2 linked regions of the Homo sapiens genome follow. The protein of the gene in region 1 purifies or fractionates together with the protein of each later gene. This does not show direct contact. Each region holds a gene or a part of one and is shown in the gene's direction. Other genes may lie near its edges.

Region 1 (5,465 bases):
CACATAGGAGGCTCCAAGGATCGTGAATCACATGAACAAGTGATATTCTTACTCTCTGCAGACCTGGAAAGCTGGCAGAGTCATTCCACGATGAAACATTTGTAGAGTCATAGGCCTTGTTAGTCTCATCTCCACGGGGACACATATCAACATATCATCTTTCATAATATAAATATACAGTCGGTCCTCCATATCTGTGGGGTTTACAGGTGTTTATTGAACCAACAATAAATCAAAAATATTTTCAGAAAAAAATCCCCGAAGTTTCAAGAAGCAAAAAACTATGTTGAATCGACACAAATTGAGTGGCGTGTAGGCTGTGTCAGGAATTATAAGTAATCAAGGGATGATTTCATGTATACAGGAGGATGTGCATGGGTTCTATGCAATTGCTATGCTATTTTTTTTTTTTTTTTGAGACAGTCTCACTCTCTCACCCAGGCTGGAGTGCAGTGGCATGATCTCAGCTCACTGCAACCTCCGCCTCCCAGGTTCAAGCGATTGTCTTCCCTCAGCCTCCCCAGTAGCCTCCCCTAGGATTACAGGCACGTGCCACCATGCACAGATAAATTTTTTTGTGTGTGTATTTTTAGTAGAGACGGGGTTTCAGAATGTTGGACCAGCTGGTCTTGAACTCCTGACCTCGTGATCTACCCAACTCAGCCTCCCAAAGTGCTGGGATTACAGGCGTGAGCCACGGTGCCCAGCTTCGCTATGCCATTTCATGCAAGGGGCTTGAGCATCTGCAGATTTTGGTATCTGAATGGGGATCCTGGAACCAATCACCCAGGAATAGTGAAGGACCACAGTATATAATTTTTATTTGTCAATCTTAAAAATAAAGCATAAAAAGTTTACAACAACAAGATAAAAAATAAGAAGTGTCTTTATAGTGTGAGGATAAGTTTAGATTTATTTTTTCCTACGTGTAACCCTATGGTCCTGTGTTATTTGTTGAGAAAATATTCTATTCCACCTTAAACTACATGGCAGCCTTTGTCAACTATAAAGGGACTGTGTATCCACAGATGTATTTTAGACACAGTTTTCTGCCCAGTGGTTCTCTGTATCCCCTCTCATGAGGATGCTGCATTTCATATAAACTTATAGAACCCCTTAAAATTTGGTAACCTGAGTTCTCTGATTTGTTATTATAGGTTATTTAGTTTGCTTTTTTTTTTCTTTCTTGAGACAGACTCTTCCTCTGTCACCCAAGCTGGAGTTCAGTGGCTTGAGCTCAGCTCACTGCAGCCTCCGCCTCCCAGGTTCAAGCAATTCTCGTGCCTCAGGTTTAGTACTAGAAACTCATCAGGAAAATTAGAATGGCTTTTTGTCACAATTACTCTGATAATGTTAATAATACCTCTTAGATATTTTGCACATTACACATGAAGAAAAGTTTGAATCTCAGATAAAAACAAAAATACATCAAAAGTCTTTAATGTAAGCACAGAATTCAATCACCTCATGTGTGAGAGGTTGGATCTGAGACGTCTTTTGAGTCTGGTCATAGTGAAGGATGCAAGGTGGCAATTGTAGTCACAACAATTTCCAGGAAGCCATGTTCCGCTCTTGAGCGAGCACCCACTGGGCCTCATGCAAGGTAGAAAGAGCCTGCGTACGTCACCCTCCCATGATGTGGTCAACATGTAAACTGCATGGGCAGGGCGCCAAATAACATCCTGTGCGCTGCTGAGCTGAGCTGGGGCGCGGCCTCCTGTCTGCACCGGCAGCACCATGTCGCTCACGGTCGTCAGCATGGCGTGCGTTGGTGAGTCCTGGAAGGGAATAGAGGGAGGGAGAGTGGGGATGGAGATCTCGGCCTAGAGGTAAAGATATGGGCCTGGAGTGGAGATATGGGCCTGGAGTGGAGATATGGGCCTGGGTGTGGAGATATGGGCCTGGAGGTGTAAATATGGGCCTGGAGTGGAGATATGGGCCTGGAGGGGAGATATGGGCCTGGGTGTGGAGATATGGGCCTGGAGTGGAGATACGGGCCTGGAGTGGAGATATGGGCCTGGAGTGGAGATATGGGCCTGCAGGTGGAGATCTGGGCCTGGAGTGGAGATATGGGCCTGGAGTGGAGATATGGGTCTGATGTGGAGATATGGGCCTGGAGTGGAGATATGGGCCTGGAGTGGAGATATGGGCCTAGAGGGGAGATCTGGGCCTGGAGTGGAGATATGGGTCTGATGTGGAGATATGGGCCTGGAGTGGAGATATGGGCCTGGAGTGGAGATAGGGGCCTGGAGTGGAGATATGGGCCTGGAGTGGAGATCTGGGCCAGGAAGTGTTGATCTGGGCCTGGAGCCTGGGTCTCTCCACAGCTGAGAGCCCTGTTCTTGGCAGCAGGTAGCAGGGAGGCTAAGTTTACCTTCAGCCCAGCAAGGGCCTGGCTGCCAAGACACACAGTGCAGTGGGGGCAGCAGGGTGCCCTGGTTTGCCTGCAGTTGGATCGTCTATCATGATCTTTCTTTCCAGGGTTCTTCTTGCTGCAGGGGGCCTGGCCACTCATGGGTGAGTCCGTCCCCAAACCTTAGGGTGTCATCTCCCCACATAAGAGGATTTTTCTGAAACAGGAGGGAAGTCCTGTCGGGGAGTCTCTCATAAACTAGGAAGAGGGGACCCTTGGATACTCGGCCCACATTTCTGACCTCGCCCTCCCTGGCCTTTCTTTCCCTTTCCTGAGTCAAGCTCTGTGAAGACTGGGGTGAGACTGGGGTGCTCCAAGCTGGGGTGTGCAGGGAGGAAGTGGTGTCAGCAGCAGAGAAAGAGAGGGAAGCAGTGCTAGGAACAGCAGGTCCTCTGAGGACAAAGGTATAACTGACACCCTCCAGCGTTTCCGTGACGGTAGGGGCTGCAGTGTGGCTGCGGTCTTTCTACCAGAAGAGGGGGGAAACCACAGCCATGGCCCTGACATTCCAAATCCTCTGAGGGGGCTCAGTTCATGAATTGGCTGATATTCCATTCACATAGGACATGCCCTCCATGCCGTGTCTACTTTGTGTTGTTTTATGTGAGTAATTTTGCAGTATTAAAATCTAGTAAGAGTCACTTATTCAGCACTTGCTCAAAGTTCTCAGCTGACACTTGTTGTAGGGAGACGCCATGTCTATGTGGGGTGGGTCCTTCCTGTAGCCCTGGGCACCCAGGTGTGGTAGGAGCCTTAGAAAGCGGAAATGGGAGAATCTTCTGAGCACAGGGAGGGAGGGGTGGCTCCACATCCTCCTCTCTAAGGCAGTGCCTCCTTCTCCCCCAGGTGGTCAGGACAAACCCTTCCTGTCTGCCCGGCCCAGCACTGTGGTGCCTCGAGGAGGACACGTGGCTCTTCAGTGTCACTATCGTCGTGGGTTTAACAATTTCATGCTGTACAAAGAAGACAGAAGCCACGTTCCCATCTTCCACGGCAGAATATTCCAGGAGAGCTTCATCATGGGCCCTGTGACCCCAGCACATGCAGGGACCTACAGATGTCGGGGTTCACGCCCACACTCCCTCACTGGGTGGTCGGCACCCAGCAACCCCCTGGTGATCATGGTCACAGGTCAGAGGCTTTCTGTCTGGGCTTCTCACTGTCCCACCTCCTGAATCCCAGAGCTTCTGGTGGGGGTGTCCATCAGGGTCCCATCACCCAGGCCCCAACTGTATTTGGGGTCAAGGGAGATTGAATACAGGGGAAATGGGTGCTGTGGTGGGAAGAATAACTGTCGCCAATGATGGCTACATTGTAAACCCTGGAGCCTGTGACTATTTATGTTATAGGGCAGGGGACTGAAGGGGAAGGTGGAGCTCAGGTTGTTGATGAGTTGACCTTGAGATGGGGAGACAGCCTGGACTGTCCTGCTGGGCTCAGTGTAATCACAAGGGTCCGCGTGAGAGGTGGAGGAAGAGGGGAGTGGGGATTAGAGCAGTGTAGTGGGAGGGAGACGCTATCAGCCACTGTGGGCTTTGAAGGTGGAGGAAGGCCACTAGTCACAGAATGCAGGTGGCCTCTAAGGGCTGGAGAAGTCAAGAGAACTGATTTGCTGAGTCTCCAGAGGGAACGCAGCCCTGCAGATGCCTTGATTTCAGCACAGGGAGAACTGGATCCAATTTCTGTCCCCAGAAGTGGAAGGGGTCAGTGTGTTCTCTCCTGCTGCCATGTTTGTGATAATTTTCTGCAGCAGCAACAGGAAACCGACACAGGAACCCAGGTCAAGGACAAGCTAGGAAACCAAACAAGGATAGCCAGGTGTGGTGGTGGGCACGAGTAATCCAACGACTGGGGAGGCTGAGGCAAGATAATCACTTGAACCGGGGAGGCAGAGGTTGCAGTGAGCCAAGACAACACCACTGCACTCCAGCCTGGGTGAAAAAGTGACTGTCTCAAAAATAAATTAATTAATCAATTAATTAAAGAAACCAAACAAGGAGAAGGTTGGCTACCGTGGGATCAGCAAGGGTGGGATGCTGATGCCACCACCAGGCTCCATCCACATAGGAAGGGGTTGATGCTCCTGGAACCAGCACCAGGGACCACCCTATGGAAGCTGGGGCCATGGAGAAGGCACAGACATGGCAGGAGAGGCTCCCAATCCCCATCAGGAACAGGGTGTGTGGACACTGATGTCTGCCTTACTGATGAGTTGATACCTCTGCCAGAGACTCCAATTTGTTCAAAAGAGATTGATTCAGGCTGCTGAGAGCCTGGACATGCAGCCTGTCCTCTTCCACCCCCACATAGACAGCAGGAAAGAGACTAGTGGGAAAGAGATACAACAGCCCAAGAGATGAGGCTCTCTTCACAGTGGGAAGGGAGTCAGGGGCTACTGGAGACAGAGGGACAGAGAAGAGGGAGGAAGACAAATGGAGGGACCTGCACCAGGGGATATGGGCACAGAAAAGACACGGAGACACAGAGAGGGAGGAGAGAGACAGACCTCTGGGAGGGGAACCCTCACTCATTCCAGGTGCCATGGATGGGATGATAAAGAGAGATGCCTTCTAAACTCACAACTTCTCTTTCTAGGAAACCACAGAAAACCTTCCCTCCTGGCCCACCCAGGGCCCCTGCTGAAATCAGGAGAGACAGTCATCCTGCAATGTTGGTCAGATGTCATGTTTGAGCACTTCTTTCTGCACAGAGAGGGGATCTCTGAGGACCCCTCACGCCTCGTTGGACAGATCCATGATGGGGTCTCCAAGGCCAACTTCTCCATCGGTCCCTTGATGCCTGTCCTTGCAGGAACCTACAGATGTTATGGTTCTGTTCCTCACTCCCCCTATCAGTTGTCAGCTCCCAGTGACCCCCTGGACATCGTGATCACAGGTGAGAGTGTCCAGACATTCTTCTCATTGTCATTGGGACACAGAGTGAATGATCCAGGACTTGGAACCCCCAGGTGGTCATGAGGAAGATAAGCGTGGGATTCTTATGGAGAGAGACTGACTCGGTGAGGTCTGTACCAACAGAGACAGGGAAACAG
Region 2 (4,914 bases), on another chromosome or scaffold:
TTCTCCCGAGCTCTCTTAAATCTCAGAGTGAGAGTGGGTTTTTGTATGTGGGTGTCTGTAAATAGTTGTTCTTTTTACTTAAAGAATACCATCAAACCTTTTTTTTCCTGGTGATGAACTCTTTTAGTTTTATAGTTGAAACTATTTTAAAAGGGAAAAAGAACCATTTTTTAAATGACAGCTCTTTGTGGAACCCATGATTTGATAGTAAACATTATGATCATGCCTATGTTTAATCCACATCTCTCATAAATAGGCATAAAGTATTCTCAATTATAGTAAAATATCTCATACTTGTATAGAACTCTGGAGACATGAATTAACAACTTCACTACAAATTTTCACGTAGTTTATTACATGCATCATGTTTCAGCAATTAATGGTGTTCACGAGTATTCCACAATGAATTGGTGACTGCTAAAATTGTTTGGTGCAGTCTTACCAACCAAAAGGTGTCTGAGATTGATTTGTAATAAAGTGAGGTGGTTCGCTGGAATGACCATTATGTGTATTCCTTAATGAAAGCTTAGCTTAATAAATTACCACTGTTTGAAGATAAATGGCCTTGGAACAGCCGTATGTTCAAACTTAATTAGGTTAATGAAGAAGAAATTATTTTATTAATATAGGTATCTTACTATTTAAAATTAGCACTATCTTTATAGAAAGTACATTGTAGTTACCATGTGCACAGTCAGAGTTCTGTGTAAACTGAGGTGAATATTAGCCAATGACCAGCTAAAATACTGCTCTTACCCCTTACTCATTAATATTGTTACATTTTTCATTTTCATTGTTGTTTTTCTTTAATATTCTGATATTCTCATATTTTGAAAGTCAACTTTTCTCAGTATTCAAGTAAAACTTTAATTTATTCATGGCTACCTTAATTTGTAGCCCCTTAAAAATTATTTAGCAGTGTTTTTTTTTAAAATGTGATTCCCTTTTCCCTCTTTTTTCTTTTTTGAGACAGAGTCTCACTCTGTTGCACAAGCTAAGTGCTGTGGTGCAGTCATGGCTTAGTGCAGCCTTGACTTCCTGGCCTCAAGCAATTCTCCAGCCTCAGCTTGCCAAGTAGCTGGGACTACAGGTGCACACCACCACACCTAGCTAATTTTTGATTATTTGTAGAGACAGGGTCTCACTATGTTGCCCAGGTTGGTTTCGAACTCCTGGACTCAAGTGGTCCTTTATCGAGCAGCATTTTAATATAAAAAATACATTTTTATCATCTGAAAATAAGTTTCTTTCAGTTCTAAGTGATTACTGTGGACTTCAAAGTGCCAGTATTCCATTGCTTAAAAAATTGACTGAGTTTCTTGGTAACAGGGGACTTAGTCAAATAGGAAAAAAGAGACAGTGATCAGCACCTACTGGAATATCTGTACTACAGGTTTTTTCATGAAGGTGAATAGATATCCATCTCCATAGCCATTCCAGGATCCATTAAGGCCTCACTGACCTTAAGAGACACTTTTCTTTGTGCGTGTTTAGACATAGTGTTTGGTAATTGAGTGACTAGAAACCCCTGTGGCCTCTTTCTTGTTATACACTGACAGCTCTGCCTTTCAATTTTTTTATTTTGTTCTTATCATCATTACTTTTTTTTTAGGCTTCTTTAACTGAGCAATTCTCCTATTTTTATATAATGTTCCTAGGTAAAAGGGAATTTTTCTTCTTAGGTTTGGTTTTCCTGTGTCTGTCATCCACTTATCTTTCTGTGTGGCTGTAGTCATATTTATTGTCATCATTATACTTTGTTTACTCTGGACATAGCATGCAGGTGAAGCTAATATGATTGTGTTACACTTCATATCTCTCTTCCTGTATTTTTAGCTATTGCTAATAAAATTATAGTTATGTCATTTTAATTCTTTAACATTGTATAGCTCTTGTAAAATTCTCTATAATTATGTACTAGTTTAATCTTCAGTATATGCTTTCTGAACCAGGCAAGTATTATAACCATTTTAGAGGATCCATTATTTAGTTAAATGTCTTTTATCTAAAGGAAGTCACTGGTGAGGCTTGATAAGATTCCTCATTCCAAAAGTTTATTGTTTTTAATTACTGAGTGCCTACAATGTGCTAGGTTTTATTTTAGGTACTGAGACTATATAAGTGGATACAAACGAGAGAACTCTGTGCCTGCCTGGACTTACGTTCTAGTGGAGGGAGCAGGCCGTGAATAAACACATTTGCAAAAATGTAGAGTAAAGCATACAATATGTTAGATCTTGGTATGTGCCGTGGAGGAAAATAAAACAGGGAAGGGGACTATGGAATTCTCGGGACATGTTTGGAATTTTAAAAGTGGTAGTCAGGGAAGGCTTCAATGAAAAGGTGTTATTTCTTCTTTAAGACCTGTGTCCATGCTGCTCTTGCTGAAATAATTGCCATTTTTGCTGTGTTTGCACAAATGCCTAAGCCATCTCTTACTGAAACTAGCCTGATTGTTTTAGAAGTACAGATATTTTATTTTATTTTATTTTATTTTATTTTTCTCTTCCTAAGCGTAATGACTGGGAGTATTTAGAATCCAGGGCTTTTTTTGGGGGGGGGGGGGGCATCTAGAGTTTTTGTATACTTCCTATTTTGATAATTGTATGAACATATACAGTTGACAAAGTGAAGAGCTATTACGTTACACAATATGTGGATTGACCTTCTTTATGTAAGAGTACCAGCCACCAGAATGTCAACTTTCTGCTTGATCTGGCTATTGAAAGGCTTCCATTTCCAGTCACTCGCCAGTGCTGATGTGGTATACCACTCAGTGTGTCATGGCATATGTAACAAAAGGTTGGGAAGTTATCTCTTTCTAAAAGTGTTTTGTGTCTTTCAAATGTAAATCATACATCATATAGTTAACAATCTAAATATTAAGTACAATCAAAATGGATAAAAATATTTACTTTTTATTCTGTAAGTAACTAGTTTATAAAGTAAGTTCATTGGAGTACATAATGTGGCTTTGTAAAAATAATTGTTATATAATCCTGTGTTCACAATCTGAATGAAATTTGGAAGTCCATTTACATAGATCAGGTAAGAATAGAATAGATGGTTAGTTTTTAAATAGTTTCCTCTTCTTCCCCTTAAAAGTTTAGTGGTATTCCTGGCTGATATATGATTTTCCAATACGTCTATCTCCAATTTTAGTTTTCTATTTTTTATTATAGGTGCAATATATTTCTGTTATACAACTATAGACTTATAGTTGTGTGACCGTGGGCAACTTATTTAAACTCCCTAAGCCTCAATTTCTTCATCTATAAATCAATATAATAATAGTACCACCTAAATGGGTTGTTATTGAATGAGATAATGTTTTTACAACAGGTAGCATAGCAGCTAGACTATAGGAGGCACTAAAAAAGTAGTTATTTTTATTTACAATGATAATATAATACTAAATATACAATAATAATGAAGAGAAACATATTACCAATATTTTTTGTATTTTTATATTTAAATTACTATCATGTCTTGTCCCATCCAACTAATATATAATTGTTAACCTCTACTGAATATTTTAATTTTGTGTTAAAATTGTTTTTTACTTCTATAATTCTATAGTAACCATTTAATACTTTGTAACAGCCATTAGTTGTTTTTTCATTTATGTGTATGCCTGATCAGAAGACATTTATTTATTATTTAATTTTATTTAATTACAGGTAGATGCCACTGAGAGTGAACCAAAGAGTTTTATCTTTATGAGTGAGGATGCTTTGACAAATCCACAGAAACTGATGGTTTTAATTCATGGTAGTGGTGTTGTCAGGGCAGGGCAGTGGGCTAGAAGACTTATTATAAATGAAGATCTGGACAGTGGCACACAGATACCGTTTATTAAAAGAGCTGTGGCTGTAAGTACAATTTCCTGGGTTTTTTTTTTTGGCATTTTATAGTACTGTTTTATTATATGTTTTTATGTTTCTTCAAAAAGTATATCCTAAGCATAATCTTATCTTTGGGTTGTTATTATTTATTTTACTTGTATGAAAGATTATTCTGCATTATTTTGCAGTTACAAAGAAACACAAAGTGGCATCTTGAGCATACAAAGATTTAAATAATGTCTTTTGAGTGAATTATTTTTCTAAAATATTTTTAATCCTGTGAAATATGACAGGGTTAATATTTTCTAAAAATATTTTTAATCCTGTGAAATATCAATTATCAAACTATCAAATATTTATCAACATTATTGAAAATAACTTCTGACAAAAATATCATGACTGCTTTTGTAAACCTTTGCCTACCTAATTTGGTAAAGTTAGAAACTAAAGGAGATCTGCTACTTTGAATTAATCTCATATTATTTAAAGGAAGAGTTGGAATAACTAAATTTTTTTGTCGTTTCTTTAAAATGTTTTTTAGAGCCCACAAATAAAATGCTTTAAGCATGAGACATAGACATACAGAATGGCAAAATGTAATGTTTAATGAATACTTTATTCTTATTTGCATTCAAACTTTTTAGAAACTCCTATTTTTAAATTGTGTTCAAGGTTTCTTTTCTTGCAATAGTGAAATGTTTTTCTGACATAATATTGGCATATTTTAATGTTTGACTGCTTTTGTTTTACTATTGCATTCATAAGTTCCATAGTGAACAGCCCAATTTTGCAAAGTGTGAATTTCTTTCACATGAGTAGATTTTTTTTTTAGAAAAACATAAACTGATATCTTGTATCAGTTTTGTAAAAAGTAAAAAGTCTTTTGTAAAAAGACTTTTGTAAAAAGTAAAGGAATATATGTGTCCATGTAGGCTTTATTTGTTTTATTTATAAGAATTATTACGTTTGTAATTAAAATTAGAAGGGATTTCTTTAATACGCTGATGATTACAAAAGTCAAAGGTAACATGTTCTCTATTCTGTTAACTCAGAAATGAGAAATGAAGGC

The links. The genes of interacting proteins can lie anywhere in the genome.
Region 2: the proteins of KIR3DL2 (region 1) and ARB2A purify together in Homo sapiens (affinity purification with mass spectrometry; 2 studies listed by BioGRID and IntAct, with this or other methods). This does not show direct contact.

The regions. Positions count from the first base shown.
Region 1 is NC_000019.10:54,848,739-54,854,203, forward strand, and holds the start of KIR3DL2 (killer cell immunoglobulin-like receptor 3DL2 isoform 1 precursor), read left to right. Parts: upstream 1-1,704; 5' UTR 1,705-1,737; coding exon 1,738-1,771; intron 1,772-2,481; coding exon 2,482-2,517; intron 2,518-3,259; coding exon 3,260-3,544; intron 3,545-5,008; coding exon 5,009-5,308; intron 5,309-5,465. UniProt on the Homo sapiens protein: Receptor on natural killer (NK) cells and T cells for MHC class I molecules. Upon binding of peptide-free HLA-F open conformer, negatively regulates NK and T cell effector functions. Acts as a receptor on astrocytes for HLA-F.
Region 2 is NC_000005.10:93,957,735-93,962,648, reverse strand, and holds part of ARB2A (cotranscriptional regulator ARB2A isoform 1 precursor), read left to right. Parts: intron 1-3,680; coding exon 3,681-3,872; intron 3,873-4,914. UniProt on the Homo sapiens protein: Plays a role in the regulation of alternative splicing, by interacting with AGO2 and CHD7. Seems to be required for stabilizing protein-protein interactions at the chromatin-spliceosome interface. May have hydrolase activity.